Linked DNA regions of Homo sapiens. The protein of the gene in region 2 purifies or fractionates together with the protein of the main gene of each other region. This does not show direct contact. Each region holds a gene or a part of one and is shown on either strand. Other genes may lie near its edges.

The links. Proteins that work in one complex are often made in the same cells at the same time.
Region 1: the proteins of ATAD3C (region 2) and BRD1 purify together in Homo sapiens (affinity purification with mass spectrometry; one large-scale study listed by BioGRID and IntAct). This does not show direct contact.

Annotation. Positions count from the first base shown.
Region 1 is NC_000022.11:49,796,874-49,800,373, forward strand, and holds part of BRD1 (bromodomain-containing protein 1), read right to left. Parts: intron 2,247-3,500; coding exon 2,115-2,246; intron 1,814-2,114; coding exon 1,685-1,813; intron 1,245-1,684; coding exon 932-1,244; intron 1-931. UniProt on the Homo sapiens protein: Scaffold subunit of various histone acetyltransferase (HAT) complexes, such as the MOZ/MORF and HBO1 complexes, that acts as a regulator of hematopoiesis.
Region 2 is NC_000001.11:1,448,479-1,452,488, forward strand, and holds the start of ATAD3C (ATPase family AAA domain-containing protein 3C), read left to right. Parts: upstream 1-1,210; 5' UTR 1,211-2,205; coding exon 2,206-2,280; intron 2,281-3,567; coding exon 3,568-3,644; intron 3,645-3,886; coding exon 3,887-3,956; intron 3,957-4,010.

The DNA of each region.
Region 1 (3,500 bases), on a different chromosome or scaffold from region 2:
AGAGGAAGAGGGCCAGGCCTCATCCCAGAAGAAGCGACCTAGCACGGGTCAGTGATTCATCAAGAGAAAGGGTAGGCCAAGAAATCAGGGATATGGGACCTTTAGACAAATAAGCCAAACACACCGTGATTTCTGCTCAGTTTGTGGCTCAGAGCTGGAGCTGAGGTGCTGGAGCTCTATGTGCTTTGACAACCCATGTGGGCAGGACACACCCTTCGACAGACAATCCCAGAGGTGCGACTAACAAGCAGGGTGCAGGGGACAGCCCCGGTTTCCGAGGACCAGTCTAGAGAAGGGTGCAGGTGACTACACATGGCTGCAACACGTGCCTGGGCAACCAAGAAGCACAAGCCCAGGCTGGAGTCCAGGTGGGCCGTGGACACACTCCCAGAGCCCTTTCTACAACATGCGCAAACCACGAAGTTAAAGGGCTGGAGGCAAAGCCAGAGATCCTCCGGCTTCACGCCACCCTCAGAAGTTAGCCGAGGCCCACTCTGGATGAAAACCCCCAACTAAGCTGCTTTCTGGGTCTGCATCGTCGAGACCGGCCACCCCATAGGGAGCCACAGCCACACAGTCCTCTTGGTGGGCACCCAAAACGCAGCCAGTCTGAAGTGACAGGTGCTGAGCGTAAAATACACATCAGATGGCAAAGAAGGTGAAAAGCTTATATATCCTCAGTAACGTTTACCGATCCCATGTTGAAATCAACTCTTCCATACACTGAGTAAAATAAGACATATTATTAAAGTAAATTCCACCTGCTTCTTTTCCATTTTTCAGTGAGGCTACTAGAAAATGTAAATGATGTATGCGGTTGCATGCTAGTGGCTCCCGGACCATGCTGATAGGGAGCTGGCAACACAGAGCAGGACAGAGTCTGCTAGAAAGAGCGTCTTCCACCTCCTCCGGACACGGCGCCAGTTCTTACCGTCTTCCCAGGAGAAAGGCCGCCGCGGTGCCGCAGCAGGCCGCTCAGGCAGGTGCATCCCCGAGGCCTCTTCCAAGCCGATGCTGTCCACCTCGCGCCGGGCCTGCCTCAGAACAACACCTCCCTGATCGCGCAGCCTCACCGCGGCTCTATAGAACACGGTGTCCCTGGCATTGTACTTCATGCAGTTATCTATAATGAGATCAAAATCCTCCTCAAACTCATGGAGGTTTTTATACCCTTGAGCTTCTAACCGTTTCCTCATTGTGGCAAAGTCCATGGGATGTTTAATGTGATCCAAATAATCTGGTACCTAATTTTAGGGAGGAAAAAGAATCATTTACAAACTAAAACAGGATATTAGTTGACTCTATATTTATTATTCCATATAACCCACAAGCCCATCCTATCTGAGAGCCACACACAGACACGCAGACGGTACAGACATAAGACCCAAGTACTGCAGGGACCTTCCCGACCCCAGCTCCTTCAGCTAAAGCACGCTGGAGGGTGCCGGGCGGATGCTGCCACAGCCCAGGGTACTGTCTGCACAGGGCCTCTTGCCCACTGCACTTTCAGTATTTTACAATGAAATGTATCACTTTTATAATTTAAAAACAAATACGTTAAATAAAAACGAGAATTAAGAACACAAGGGATGTACTCTAGCCAATCACACGTTTCCCGGTCAAACGGCAGCACAAATCCACAGTCACACATGCGGCAGGACAGACGAGCGCCGCAAACACCCACCTCCTTCAGACTCACGGGCTGCGCAAATATCCTGGCGGGGTCCTTGTCTTGCAGCTGGTCCAGCACTGAGCGCAGCAGCACCGTCAGCGGGGTCAGCCGCAGCTCCATGGCGACCTGCTCCACCTTCACCTGGGGGGGCCCAGCAGAGCCTCAGCTTTAGGGAGCCGCACATGCGTCTCAGCCCCACCACGCGCCCCACAGCCACAAGCAGCCCCCACAGGCTCCTGTGCTTCCGTCCAGGCATAGGACAACGCAGCCTCCACTTAGGGCTCTGCAACCCATGGCAGCCAGGCACCCAGCCTGGGCTGAGCAAGGCACTGCTGTGGGCCAGGACCCACCGGGTGCAGCCCACCCTCTGCAGGAGCTGCCAGCGTCCCACCCACGCCCCGTGGCCAGTGGTGCACTCCACGCGGGACAGGCCCAGCCCCACCTGCTCACGCTTGAGCTTCTCCCGCTTGCGCAGCAGCTCGATCAGCAGGCGAGCGCGCTCCAGGTCGTGCCGCAGCCGCTGCCAGTACTTCAGCTTCTCTTTGGCAGCCTTCATCTCCTCATCATTTTCTCTCTGAGAACAGTGAACACTTCCGTCAGTCAAACCCAGAGGCTCCTTCTGCAAAAGGCCTCAGATACCATGCAGGTGAGACCCCAAGAGGCATCCACGTCAGGGGTCCTGCAGGCCCATCCTGGGGAGGACAACAGACCACCCTCACTAGAGAGCCCCAGGACAGCACCGGGACAGAGGGGACAGAGGAGACAGAGGGGATGGAGGGGACAGAGGGGACCGCCAGGCCAAGGTGAGCAGGGGGCTGGCCCCGGTGCACAGGTTCCACCCTCCAGAGAGGACAGAGGCCTCCGCAAGCTGGCGGCGGGGGGGGCCTTCACAGAACCAGAAAGGCCCACAAAGGCGGGGCCAGGACAGAATGGGGGACCCTTGAGGACCCACCTCCAGGACAGCTGGGAATGGAGGGAGCGGCTGGAAAGAAACCAGGTGCACAGAAAACCACATGCTGGGCCCATCCTGGCTTGGACAGAGCATGACGGGGGCCTGGCACACAGCCGACCTGCTGCCCTGCCCTGCACAGCGCCTCCATCCCGACACACGTTTCCCCACAGCCAGGGTCCCATTTCCATTGATAGCACCTGCTCCCTTCTCAGTGGACAGAAGAGTGCGCCAGACAGCACAGGCCGCCAGCCTCAACCCAGCCAACATCCACACCAGGGTGATCAGAAGAAAATCAGAGCCCTGCAAAGGCCATGACACAGATGGTCGCAGGAGAGTAGGCCACCTGGGTCTGCCCTCAGCCCTGTCCTCACCATGTCCCCCAGGCCTGGCCGCATGAGGCCTGCTCGTCACAGTGCCGGGGCACCCTGACCCTACCTCAAAGGGGAGAGGAAGTCAACGAGGGAGTTGGCCTGAGTGGGCCCCCAACACCTGTCATCCTCCACAGCTGCAGGACACGCGCGCCCTGCCAGCCTCAGGACAGCCGTGGCCATCAGTTTCTGGCACATGCTTCACAGCCCTGAGACCCTCCTCTCCCCCAACGCCTCTGTCCCCGGGTTCCCACCTGCCCACCTCAGGGTACTGTCATAGCTTTTCAAAGGACCGAGGGTGTGAAGGCAAAGACTGCTGGACTACAAGATGCAAGGACCCCGGACTCCAAACTGCTCAGAAAAGGAGGCTCAAGGAGGGAGGCCGAGCCCCGCACCCCCACCCCCAAGGCCAGGCCTCTCCATGGCGAGGCAGAGCGTTGCTGCGCTGATGTCCCCTGAAGTGAGGATCTCTGGGTTTTCCTCAATGCTGCTGAACACCCTCAGGCAG
Region 2 (4,010 bases):
GTTGGCCAGGCTGCTGTCGAACTCCTGACCTCAGGTGATCCTGACCTCAGGTGATCCACTCGCCTCAGCCTCCCAGAGTGCAGGGATTACAGGTGTGAGCCACAGAGCCCGGCCTCTTAACTCTATTTCCACAAGAGTTTTTCCTGTTAGTTACTGATTACCCATTGTGTCTTTTTCCTCGAATCACCTGGGAGGAACTATCTTTAAATAAGTGTCGTCCTGTAATGCACTACGGCCGTCTGTGGGTTACCACATTAAGGATAGTTGTCAGTGGCCTCCATGCCTTTCGGTAAGTTGTTTTTTTTTTTTTTTTTGAGACAGAGTCTCATTCGTCGTCGAGGCTGGAGTGCAGTGGCACTGTGTCGGCTCACTGCAACCTCTGTCTTTCCTGGGTTCAAGCAATTCTCCTGCCTCAGCCTCCTGCATAGCTGGGATTGCAGGCATCCACCACCGCACCCGGCTAATTTTTTGTATTTTTAGTAGAGACAGGGTTTCACCATGTTAACCAGGATGATCTCCTGACCTCCTGAACTGCCCGCCTCGGCCTCCCAAAGTGCTGGGATTACAGGCGTGGTGAGCTGCCACGCCGGGCGTACTCTGGCTTTTAAAAGAATGGGGCACATTGCTTTTTCTTGACTACTTCTATCTCTCCTTTTCTCTCTCTCTCTAACTCTGTCTCTCTCTCTCTCTGGCTCTCTCTGTCTCTTTGACTCTGTCTCTCTCTGTCTGTCTCTGTCTCACTCTCTAACTCTGTCTCTCTCTCTGACTCTGTCTCTGCCTGTCTCTCTCTCTCTTTGACTCTCTCTCTCTCTCTGACTTCCTCTGTTCCCTCTGTCAGTCTTTCTCTCTCTTTGACTCTGTCTCTCTGACTCTGTCTCTCTCTCTCTCTGACTCTCTCTCTCTCTCTGACTTTCTCTGTTCCTTCTGTCAGTCTTTCTCTTTCCTCTAAGATTTTTTTCCCTTTCTCTTAGAATCTCTTCTACAGGCTTATTTTTCTAGTTCTTTCTTTTGTAATTTGTGGTTAATATCTGGCCAACTGTTAGTGACAAATTCCTTGCCCAAGAGGATCCTCGACACCTCGACCAGCATATTTTCTCATTTGTTCTTTTAATCTGTCTAAAAATTATGTCGCAGGCCCTTTATCTTTTCCTTGCTGTATGTTAAATATTCGGGTAAGATTCTGGGTTCCGGGCATGGATTCTTTAATCCCCTTCATGATTAACTCCCCAAGGTCCTGCATATTTTCTCAATGGGCCACCGCGCCCGGCCAGAAGATTTTTATGGTAAAATTTTGTGATGGGAAAACTCATCCCGGAAAATGTTGAGACCTGATGCTGAGTCCTCAGCAGCTCAGAGAATACGTACTTCTGTCCCAGGTCACCCAAACATTGACCTGTGTCGGTTCCCCACTAGGAACAAAATGTAACTGAGGACGTTGTCAGATGCTTGTCCTCGTCACCCTGAGCTTGTTGGCTGCTATCTAATTCTTATTCTTTCATTTTCTTGCCCGCACGTTCTTGATAGCAGATCACTGACAACAGCCATTGGAAGCTTAGGAAAAGGGTATGTGCCGGGCGCGGTGGCTCACACCTGTAATCCCAGCACTTTGGGAGGCTGAGGTGGGCGGATCACGAGGTCAGGAGATCGAGACCATCCTGGCTAACACGGTGAAACCGTCTCTACTAAAACTACAAAAATTAGCCGGGTGTGGTGGCGGTCGCCTGTAGTCCCAGCTACTCGGGAGGCTGAGGCAGGAGAGTGACGTGAACCCGAGAGGTAGAGCTTGCAGTAAGCAGAGATCATGCCACTGCACTCCAGCCTGGGCCAGAATGAGACTCCGTCTCAAAAAAAAAAAAAAAAAAAGCATGTGTAACGTGAAAAAATGGACACTTTAGCCATCGCCTGACTTTCTGTTGAATTGGGAAAGAGCCTCCTCCCGTCCACATGGGATGGCCTTCCTGATGTGGCTCTCCAAGACCATCCCTGGAGGGCATAAAACCTCACAAATGCATCAGGCCGTGTGCTGGGGATGGGGCATCGTCACGCCAGGTCTGACTAGGAAGGAGGATGGGGAGGCAGGGCTGGGGGCTTTGAGGTCGAGGCGTGGCCGTGGATTCCAGAAAGCCCCTTGGCTGGTGTGCGTGCCTGCCCAGCGGCATCCGTGTATCCTAACACCTGCCCTCCGTGTCCCTGCATCTGCAGGCCATGTCAAAGGACGCCCTGAATCTGGCGCAGATGCAGGAGCAGACGCTGCAGTTGGAGCAACAGTCCAAGCTCAAAGTGAGTGGGGCCGGTGTGGGCGGGGAGGCCGGGGCACACATGGGGTTCGGGCGTGGAGATTGGTAGGGCTACTGCCGGTGGGTAGGGCCGGGGGTGTGTACATGGGCAGCAGTGGGGCCCAGGGCCAAGCTTGGGCGCCTCATTTCACAGAAGGAAACAAGGGGAGGTGAGAGACGCTGCCGCAGAGCCGCCCGAGAGGGAGGGCCGGTGTTGGTGAGGGCGTCTGGTCGTCCTGAGGGCCTGGATCTTCTTGACATTCTCACCTCATTTCTTTGACTCAGCAGGATTTTTTTTTTTTTTGAGATGGTGTCTTGCTCTGTCGCCCAGGCTGGAGTGCAGTGGTGCGACCTTGGCTCACTGCAAGCTCCACCTCCCGGGTTCACACCATTCTCCTGCCTCAGCCTCCTGAGGAGCTGGGACTACAGGCACCTGCCACCACGCCCAGCTAATTTTTTTTGTATATTTAGTAGAGATGGGGTTTCAGCGTGTCAGCCAGGATGGTGTCGATTTCCTGATCTCCGCCTGCCTCAGCCTCCCAAAGTGCTGGGATTACAGGCGTGAGCCACCGCGTCCAGCTCAGCAAGATTTTTTAATTTTATTTATTTTGAAACGGAGTCTCACTCTGTTGCCCAGGCTGGAGTGCAATGGTGCGATCTCAGCTCACCGCAACCTCTGCCTCCTGGGTTCAAGCCATTCTCCTGCCTCAGCCTCCCAAGTCGCTGGGATTACAGGCACCCACCACCATACTCGGCTAATTTTTGTATTTTTATTAGAGACAGGGTTTCACCATGCTGGCCAGGCTAGTTTTGAACTCCTGACCTCAAGTGATCACCTGCGTCGGCCTCCCAAAGTGCTGGGATTACAGGTGTGAGCCACGGTGCCCGGCCGGTCACCTTCAGTCCTGAGCTCACAGGCGGGGTTCACGTGTTGCCTGTTGTGGGCATTGTAGCTTTAACGTTTAATTGGCAGAAGACAGAAGCTTCCTTAAGCCCAGCCTGAATCAGGGCAGTGGTGTTGGGAGGTCGGCCAGCAGTGGCCCTTGTCAGGGAAGCCACAGTGGGGGCTGTTTCTGCCGCTGGGGAGTTTGGGCCCCTGAACCCATCCCCTCAGTGACTGCCGTCCCGGCCGATGTCACCCGTGTCTGTGTCAGGGTGCGGCGTCTGCAGGTCCCCAGGTGCCCGGGACGCTTGGAGCCCTGCGGTCCTGGGGCGGACGCAACCTCTGGATTGGTGTTGAGCATTTTTCTGGTTTTAAAGGCTTTTCTCTTTTTCTGCGGCTTCTTCTCAGCAACTTGTCAATGAGGATTTACGGAAGCAGGAGGAGTCCGTGCAGAAGCACCATCAGACCTTCTTGGAGTCCATCAGGTGAGCGCTGCCGAGGCCCGGGCCGGCCGCAGATGGAGCCCCCACAGGTGTGAGTCGCTGGTCCCAGGGTGCTCTCCAGCTCTCCCAGGTCTGGCCGCTGTAGGCTGGCTCCTTGGTGGGGACACTGCCCCCCTGTCCTGGCAGGACCAGGCTGCTGTGTCAAGGCCTCACCCTCAACCTGTTCTTGCTACGTGGCGTGGGTCTTTGTTTCCCTCCTGGTCACACCACTGCTTTCCCCACAGGGCGGCTGGCACCTTGTTTGGGGAAGGATTCCGTGCCTTTGTGACAGACCGGGACAAAGTGACAGCCACGGTAAACATACTCATAAAACAGGGCTGGCAGGTGGCTGAGGGGCAGCATGTGGGG